Linked DNA regions of Homo sapiens. The gene in region 2 interacts genetically with the main gene of each other region. Each region holds a gene or a part of one and is shown on either strand. Other genes may lie near its edges.

What was found. Genes that interact genetically often act in the same process or in processes that back each other up.
Region 1: changes in SDHB (region 2) and PBRM1 together harm fitness more than expected from each alone (negative genetic interaction), as found in Homo sapiens cells (one large-scale study listed by BioGRID).

The regions. Positions count from the first base shown.
Region 1 is NC_000003.12:52,584,230-52,589,704, forward strand, and holds part of PBRM1 (protein polybromo-1), read right to left. Parts: intron 5,027-5,475; coding exon 4,841-5,026; intron 3,282-4,840; coding exon 3,124-3,281; intron 2,460-3,123; coding exon 2,196-2,459; coding exon of another isoform or gene 2,184-2,195; exon of another isoform or gene 952-2,183; intron 1-951. UniProt on the Homo sapiens protein: Involved in transcriptional activation and repression of select genes by chromatin remodeling (alteration of DNA-nucleosome topology). Required for the stability of the SWI/SNF chromatin remodeling complex SWI/SNF-B (PBAF).
Region 2 is NC_000001.11:17,017,346-17,021,726, forward strand, and holds the end of SDHB (succinate dehydrogenase [ubiquinone] iron-sulfur subunit, mitochondrial isoform 1 precursor), read right to left. Parts: intron 1,614-4,381; coding exon 1,536-1,613; 3' UTR 1,377-1,535; downstream 1-1,376. UniProt on the Homo sapiens protein: Iron-sulfur protein (IP) subunit of the succinate dehydrogenase complex (mitochondrial respiratory chain complex II), responsible for transferring electrons from succinate to ubiquinone (coenzyme Q).

The DNA.
Region 1 (5,475 bases), on a different chromosome or scaffold from region 2:
TAATTTGTTGTTAGTGTGAAATGGATATTTTCTCCCATAAGATTTTTCTAACAGTTGCTAAAGTGTATTCAACACTTTCACTTTACTTTCAAAAGTCTTACTAGTTTATATATGAAGACTATTCATTTACATATGGATTTTGAAATTTCTATTTGCTAAATTTTCTGTTTCCAACCTTTTCAGTTAATTTCCCCCAATTATCTGCAGAAAAGTATTCTTGCTTTTTTTTTTTTTTTTTTTTTTTTTGAGACGGTCTTGCTCTGTTGACCAGGCTAGAGTGCAGTGGTGCAATCACAATTTACTGCAGCCTCTACCTCCTGGGCTCATGGGATACCCCCATCTCAGCCATCCAAGTGGTTGGGTCTACAGGCATGTGCTACCATGCCTGGCTAATTTTTGTACTTTTTGTAGAGATGGGGTTTCACCATGATTCCCAGGCTAGTCTCAAAATCCTGGACTCAAGCGATCCACCTGCCCTGGCCTCCCAAAGTTCTAGGATTACAGGTATGAGCCAACACGCCTGCCATCTTGCTTCTTTATTGTCAATATTTTTACTGCTTTTGTTTATCTAACTACATTGGCTAATTTCAAAAAATATTAAGTAACACTAGAACAGTAAGCCCCTTTGTCCAGTGTGTAAATTTAAAAAGGAATTTGTTTTATAGGCTTCAGGCTTGAGACACAAATATGAATTTAAAAAAAAATTACACTAGAAGAAATACCTATTGAAAGTCTTAAAAAAAATCAAGATGGGTTCTCTACCAAATAATCTTTCCTTTGATCTAATGGAATAATGAATGAAATTTAAAGATCTCCCTAACTTTGAACAATTCTTGCTTTCTTAGAATGAATTCCCACTTCTTGGTCATGTTGTTCTCAAAGAAGTAATTTGATTTCACTTACTTTTTCCCCCAAGTAATTTTTGCATCAATATACATGAATAAGACTGAGTTGCAGTTTTTTGTTTTTATTTTTCAGGTTGTGAAATCAAGATTATCTTGGCTTTGCAAAACAAACTGGAAATTTCTTGTTCTCCCTGCTCTGAAACAGCTTCAACAGTATAATAATCATAGGTCCCTTAAAGAAAAAGTCACCTATGGAACTGTCTGACCTCAGTACTCTTTGGGGTCAGTTCTATGATACTTTAAAAAATTTCTTCATGTTGTTGTACATTCTGTATTATATCTCTTCTTGATTCCATTTTGGTAATTTGTAATATCCTAGACAATTAGCCATTTTATTTAGGTTTTCAAATTTATTAGCAGAAATATACAGTCTTTACATTTCTTCCACATTTATTTATTTATTTATTTTTTGAGACAGAGTTTCGCTCTTGTTGCCCAGGCTGGACTGCAATAGCACGATCTCGGCTCACTGCAACCTCTGCCTCCTGGGTTCAAGCGATTCTCCTGCCTCAGCCTCCCGTTGGGATTACAGGCACCCACCACCTCACCCAGCTAATTTTTTGTATTTTTAGTAGAGACAGGGTTTCACCACGTTGGCCAGGCTGGTCTCGAACTCCTGACCTCAGGTAATCCACCCATCTTGGCCTCCCAAAGTGCTGGGATTACAGGTGTGAGCCACCGCGCCTGGCCTTCTTCCACATTTTGTGTCGAAGTTTAACCCCTTTCTTTTCCCATTATTAGATAGTTGGCAGTTTATCTAATTGGACTTGTCAAATAATTAGCTCTTAGATTTACTTTAAAAAAATTTTTTGTTTTTTTGAGACAGAGACTCACTCTGTTGCCCAGGCTGGAGTAGAGTGGCGTGGTCTCAGCTCACTGCAGCCTCCGCCTCCCAGGTTCACGCCATTCTCCTGCCTCAGCCTCCTGGGTAGCTGGAATTACAGGCACGCGCCACCACACCCAGCTAATTTTTGTATTTTTAGTAGAGATGAGGTTTCACCATGTTGGTCAGGCTGGTCTCGAACTCCTGATCTCGTGATCTGCCCGCCTTGGCCTCCCAAAATGCTGGGATTACAGGCGTGAACCAATGCACTTGGCCTGATTTACTTTTAAATTATAATGTACAGTTTTGAAAGTGTAAATTTCTTTCTGTTATAGTTTCCTTCTTCCTGTTTGGCTAAGGTTTTGTGTTGTTGCTCTTTTTCTAAGTTTGAATACTTTATTCATTTATTTTCTGGAATAGGTGTTTTGAGATGTAAAATTTTTTCTGTGTGGCTATTATCTGCATACCTTTTCCAAGTTAAAATTGTCTTCAGCTCGACTGTCCTCTGAGTTGTCTGTATTCTTCTCATCATCACCTTTATCTGCATTTGCAAATACAGAGGCCACGCGAACCACAGGCAGAGGCACATCCCGAGGGACAAACCTGACTGAGCTGATGGGCATGGTCCACAGTTTAATTTTCTTAAAAGATTTGGTTTTGGCAGAATACCGTGATTCACAGACAAAAACATCCTCATCTCGGAAGTTTTCTGGGCATAACTTAAAGTATTCCTGGGGGGTGGGGAGGGCATAAGAATAAAACTAGTTAGGTGAATTTTCTGAAAATCAATCAAAAAAAAAAAAAAAAAAAGCAAATAACCAACCAACCAAACAAAAGCTGAACTGATTACAGACTTTCTGGCAGTTAACAAAAAATAATAAATGACCAGAGATTTAGAAGTATTTCTTTGGCTACGGAATGGACTTATTATATACACACCCTTTAAATTATAAAAACAAATAATTCCATTTAGCTTACAATTGCTCTTTGAAAACATATGAACATTTCATATAGCTATAATGTTCCTTAAAGCTTTGAAGAGGGCTTGTGTGTGTGTATCAGACAGACACACAAAAGCACACATTATTACCTAAAAAACAAACTGAAAATTTGTAATGATTATCCTTAAAAAAACATCATACTTAAAAATTAGCCTGGCAATATTAAAAACTTAACCTAACTGCATTATAGCCAAATAGTGTAAGCAGCAAGTGGTCTTTCACAACGAAGTTCAGGTTAATTTCTTCCCAAATCTTTTCATATAGCTATATAGACACGGCTTAAAAAATAGCTTAAAACAGAGTTCCTAATTTTGTAAACATCGATTATTTTCTGTGTTTTAAAATTTTATTCCTAGGGAATGAGTGAGACTTTGGGATTTAATGAGTTTCTTACCTTGACAAACATGACCACACACTTGCCTAGAATTTTACTAACTGGAACTTTGTTGTAATAGTCACTCTTAAAAACTTCTTTTTCTAGAAATTTTCGTGTAGCCAGGTGGAATGTTTCATTTGGTCGGTAAAACCAACAGCCATACAACCATTTTTCACCTCAAAAATGGGGGGTGGGGGAAGGGGAAGAGAAAGAGAATCATTGTTAACAGAAATCACTTTTTTTTTTTTTTTTTTTTAAAGAGACTGGGTCTCACTACGTTGCCCAGGCTGGACTTGAATTCCTGGGCCAAAGTGGTCCTCCAACCTCAGCCTCCTGAGTAGCTGGGACTACAAGTATAAGTCACTGTGTCCAGCTCAGAAATCACACATTCTTTGCAAAATTAGGAAATACACCATCAATCCACTCTGCCATGACATGAACCTAGCACTGTGCTTATTTTTACAGCTACAGTTTAATATAATTATCCACAGGAGAAATAATACTCAAAAATAATAAAGTGTAATGAGGCCTAAAAAATGCATGCTACTTTTCCCCCCTCATATATATATATATACACCCTCAACCTCTTGGGCTCAAGTGATCCTCCTGCCTCAGCCTCTCAAGTTGCTGGGACCACAGCAAGTGCAATCACACCCTGCTGATTTTCTTATTTTTTCTAGAGAAGGGGTCTTGCCATGTTGCCCAGGCTCTTCTTCATATTAAAAGCCATATAAAGTACATAATGAGGAGGACAGGTGATGAGACCTGCTCCACTCTGCTCTGGTTAGTACATACCTAGAGTTGTGCACTTTAGTAAGGGGACAGATATGCTACTGAAGGACATATTTAGCTCTCTGGTGAAGGAATACAAAAGTATTTCATGTGATAGGCAGCTCAAAGAACTGGATTGCCTGGATCACATTTCCACCAACTTCTGGCTTCATTAATTTCTATGCATACTCCATGTCTCAATTTAAAGGCAACTGTTCTAGAAAGCCTTTTTGAAAACAAATGCTAAGCCAAGGCATGTCATTCTATAATAATTTCTTTTTTGATCATAATCTTCCTTACTGGAGTAGTTTTGCAAGGGAAAATATGAGCTTTTTGTTCTTCTGAATCTATGTCACTCTACATAAAGTTTGGCTCAAAGTATGTTTTTAATAAGTATCAAATGAATGAATGAATCTCAACCAGACTTTAAGAAGCTGTATTTCTTTCTTTTTTTTTTTTTTTTTTTTTGAGACAGTCTCACTCTGTCACCCAGGCTGGAGTGCAGTGGCGTGATCTCGGCTCCCTTGCAAGCTCCGCCTCCTGGGTTCACGCCATTCTCCTGCCTCAGCCTCCCGAGTAGCTGGGACTACAGGCGCCCGCCACCAGGCCCAGCTCATTTTTTGTATCTTTTTAGTAGAGACAGGGTTTCACTGTGTTAGCCAGGATGGTCTCGATTTCCTGACCTTGTGATCTGCCCGCCTCAGCCTCCCAAAGTGCTGGGATTACAGGCGTGAGCCACCGCGCCCGACCTAGAAGCTGTATTTCTTTTGACTCAACTGTGACACTTGCCCAATAGGTCCTATGTTTTTCATATGATGGGTGCTTACTTACATTTATTGACATATTGAACAATTATTATGGAAAGGCTTAAGATGTCTGAGTTAAAATTTTCTTCCCTGAGGAGCAAGGAGAAGTCAAACAGTCATATCTCACTAAACTGTCCTTTGATTTAAAACAAACTTACCAGCTGAATCCTCCCACAGTCTTTCAATACAGACGATATGTGGTTGTAGGTTGGCCTCTGCAGGTTCCACATAGACGTAATCTCCAACATGGTACATGCTGTTTTTAAAGCTACAGTCCTGGCTGTATGTGCGATGTAAGCCTGAGAGGCCTGCAGCACCAGAGGAATCTTCACTCTTTTCAGCTTCTTAGGTAAAAAAATAAATAAATAAAGGAAAAAGGTACTCACCAAAGGGATGCTGAAGTCAGATGTAGGGTTCAAACAACACATACTAATAATACATTTAATACATTTAATTCCATTTGCAACATGCGAAGGCAGGAATCAGCAATAGTATGATCTTCACATTCCTAATAGCCTCTACTCAAAACTATCTTTGAATTACAACCATCATTAATTTAAATGAATATATAACTACACAAAGGATGTAGAGAATAAAAACATCACCTTACTAATATATGATCATATGGACATTTTGGATAATATCGAAAGGCACAAAGAAGTACGTATGTCGTTTCGAATCAAGTAATTCTAGAGATAATCTCTGATATACTTCATCCCCACCTTAATGCTTCTTAATGTGTTTCATTTCACTAAGTTATTACACGAATATGACACATTTAATGGAGTCTTAG
Region 2 (4,381 bases):
CTCCGTCTCAAAAAAAAAAAAAAAATAGCTGCTGGCAGACTATAGGATACCCCTTTATTTTTAAAATCTTTTTTGGTATGTTAAGAAAAAAAAGAGACAGGGTCTCACTATGTTGGCCAGGTTGATCTTGAAGTCCTGGCCTCAAGCAATCCTCCCACCTTGGCTTCCCAAAAGTGCTAGAAGCCACTGTTCCAGGCTTTTTTTTTTTTTTTTTTTAAAGGAATGGGGTCTCACTATGTTGCCCAGGCTGGAGCGCAGTAACTATTCACAGGCGCAATCATGGCAAACCATAGCCCCGACCTCTTGGGCTCACGTGATGCTCCCACCCCAGCCTCCTGAGTAGCTGGATTAGGGGCACACGCCACAGCTCCTGGCTCTATGGTACCTTACTTTTGAAGGGAGAAAGTTTTATATATGCTGCATAACTGTAATAACGTAGAGTGTGGAAGGAAATGTCTAAGCTATCAACGGGATGAGTTTGGAGGAGCTTCCACTTTTACTTTCCCCCTTTCTCCTTTTTTGCATTGCTTTTTTGTTTTGTGGAGACAGGGTCTCACTCTGTTGCTCACACTGGAGTGCAGCGGTGTGATCTCGGTCACCGCAACCTCCACCTCCCAGGCTCAAGTGATTCTCCTGCCTCAGCCTCCCAAGTAGCTGGGATTACAGGCACGCACACCCACTGCCCAGCTAATTTTTGTATTTTTAGTAGAGACGGGGTTTCACCACGTTGGCCAGGCTGGTCTTGAACTCCTCACCTCAAATGATCCTCCCGCCTCAGCCTCCCAAAGTGCTGGGATTACAGGCGTGAGCCACCACGCCCGGCTGTGCAGTGAGCATGCCAGCCAAGGCAGCAGTGCTGTGGAGTTGATGTTTGCAGTGAGAGGCCCCACGAGGTCATTTGTGGAACTAACTGGATTCACAACTGACCAGGGTCATTGCTCTGTGCTGGAGGAATCTCAAACCTGGCCTCACCGACGTATCCAAAGACTTACCAAGATTTGGTTTTCAGTAATTCTGGTACTGAAAACTATAGAAACTGGGAAGATACAGAACACTAACACTAACTGAGTGTTCAGAATAAGTGCCAGGCATTCTCATACCAGATGAATGAAGTAGGCACAATTATGGATCCCATCTTACAGATGGGCGAATGGAGCAGCAAAGAGGTGAAGGAACTTGTCCAAGGTTGTCTAGCTGGTGAGTGGCAAAGCTGGGAACAAGCTGCAGGCCCTGCTGATGTCAGTTCCACGGCTCATCACCTCCTTCCAGCTAGGGTACCCCCACCCCCGCTCAGCTCTGAAGCCCTGTCCATCTCTCCAAGGACAAGGACTCCTGGCACCTTCACATTCCCCTGCGGCAAGTAAAGGAACAGGTTCTTTTTTTTTTGTTAATAAAGTAGAATAACATTTATTTCTTAAAATTTTTATTATACATGCTGTATTCATGGAAAACCAAGATCTTTAAAGGAACTCAAATTAGATATAAATTATGTTCAGCTCTGAGCTGGTTATAAATCATGTTTAGCATGGAAACAGTTAAACTGAAGCTTTCTTCTCCTTATAGGTTGCCATCATTTTCTTGATCTCTGCAATAGCTTTCCCTGGATTCAGACCCTTGAAAAAAGAGAAAAGAATCAATAACAAATGATAACTGAAACTGAAAGGGAAAACCCACAATCTTGGGTGAAACTCCTTCCTCAGCTGGTTCAGTGTCCAAGCAAGGTGAATGCAAATCAAGTCCCTCAAAACCATAGGGGTTGGGCTAAGGGCTCTCTTCTGTCTACCTTTTTTAACATTTGAAGATGGTCAGCTCCCTCTGGCAAGAGCTCTGCCACGTTGAATTCCTTCTTGTGTGGCTCACTCTAACAGGTAAACAGGCCCAGGGCAGAGGTGCACTCTCTGACTGCTCAAAGACACTCAGGGTAGTGTCTCTTCTAGGACTACAGGCCAATGTCAAAATCAGCCAGACATCTCTAAATCTTTTACATCATCATTATTAAATAGGCAGCAGCAGAAATCAGCATATACCAGCTCTCAAAAGTATGTGGAAGAAACTACCCTCTCTATTAACCCTTTGTAAAACCATGATGATTTCAACTGGCCAATACCATTGGTATTAGCTGCAGTTTGCCCCTACAGCTGTTAACATCTGCTTTGCAGGAGGCACAATAATTAAACCCACTGAATGCCAGCTTCATTGAAGTAGAAAGTAGGAAGTACTTTACCAAGTACTTGCTTTTACCAAGCAAGTACTTGGTAAAATGAGACAAGTACTCATCTGACGTTAGTGAAGGTTCCCCTCATTTTAGAAGGATAAGTCTACCCCCCTAAAAAAGTGTTGTGGAAAGAAAGAAGAAAAGGAAAGAAAGAAAAGAGATCTTGAGAGAAGAAGAGAAAGAAAAAATATATATTTTTTTGACAGGGTCTTGCTCTGTCATCCAGGCTGAAGTGTGATCATAGTTCACTGTGGCCTGGAACACCTGGCTCAAGTGATCCTCCGGCCTCAGCCTCTCAAGTAACTGAAACTACAGGTGCGTGCCACCACACCTGGCTAATTAAAAAAAATTTTGTTTGTAGAGATGGGATCTCACTATGTTGTCCAGGCTGGTCAAAAAGACACTCTTCATATACCAACATGGGATAATCTCCAAAATATAGTGGGTGAAAAAATACAGATAAATGTGATATAAGAAAGACAGAAGAGGACACATATGCATTTGTGTGCAGCATAAAACACCTCTGAAGTTCACACAAGAATCTGACTTCTAGGGAGGTGGCTGGGTGGAGTGGGAGGGAGAATTTTCACTGTATATCCTTCTGAATCTGGATCTACCTGTGTATTTCCGGTCCCCACAGGGTCAGTAAGGGTGTTTAGACTTAGAAGGTTGGTACATACCCAATCCATGCAGGAAGAAAGAGCACTGGATGGGGAGGCAGACGGCCTAACTCTAGTCCTACCTTCCCACTGACCTGACAGTGATCTGGGGCGAGTCACTCCCCTCCCCACCTGGGGCTCAATTTCCCCATCTGTATAAGGGGATTAAACTTGATGGTTTTCAAGTCCCTTCCAGTTTCATGATCGGCCTATGTCTATGTCTCAGTCCCAACTTCCAGCCCTGTTTTACAGAAGGGAGGGCAAGGCACAGAGAACCTGTTCTTGGCTGTCTCAGTTGTCTGCTGCACCCATCCCCTCCATGCACAGGTTTGTGACCAGGAATGCACCTTAGAGTCACTCGCAGAGCTTCTGAAGAAACACACAGCCAGGCCCCACCACTGAAGATGCTATCTCTGTCTCAAACAAGCCCAGTACTCATGTTTTTTTAAAAAATAACATAAGGTGACATTTATTGGGTGCTTACTATGTGCCAGGCACTGTTCCAAGCACTTTTATAGCATAACTTGCCTCAGAGGTCAGTAGCTATTCACAGGCACAATCATGGTAAACCACAGTCCTGGGGACAGGACCCAGATGGAAGCCCAGGCAATAGGGAGCTGAAGCCTGTGGGCTCCCCCAGCGAGGCCACTGGAAACACAGAGGGTTTCCAGGCAAAAAATAAGTGAATTCTACAGCTTGGATTTCATGTTTTCAAACACACAGTGTGATCTTTTTTTACGGCTAACTGGCCACCCTACAGTTTTCCACCTTGCCGCCCACTGACTCACTGCAACTTTTGAGTGAAATCACCCACAGTCTTTGCTCGGAGGGCAGCCGTGTTCTGAACCACACAGCCCTAGCCCTTCCCTGCCCACTGGGCAAGGCTGACTGGACCAGGGCTGACACCTGCTATGGTTTGAATGTGTCCCCAAAAGCTCATGTGTTGAAAACCTAATCCCCAATGCAACAGTATTGAGAGGTGGGACCTTTAAGAAGTGATTAGATTATGAAGGCTCTGCCCTCACAAATGGATTGCCATTATCATAGGAGTAAGTTCCTGATAAAAGGATGAGTTTGGATTAGTCAGGTGTGGTGGTGTGTGCCTGTAGTCCCAGCTACTCAGGAGGTAGGAGGATCACTTAAGGCCAGCAGTTCCAGGCTGCAGTGAGCTATGATTGCGCCACTGCACCCCAGCCTGGGCAACACAGTGAGACCCTGTCTTTTAAAAAAAACAGATGAGAGGGGCCGGTCGCGGTGGCTCACGCCTGTAATCCCAGCACTTTGGGAGGCCAAGGTGGGTGGATCACCTGAGGTCGGGAGTTCGAGACCAGCCTGACCAACATAGAGAAACCCTATCTCTACTAAAAATACAAAATTAGCCAGGCATGAGTGGTGCCTGCCTGTAATCCCAGCTACTCGGGAGGCGAATGCAGGAGAATCACTTGAACCTGGGAGGCGGAGGTTGTGGTGAGCTGAGATCGATCGTGCCATTGCACTCCAGCCTGGG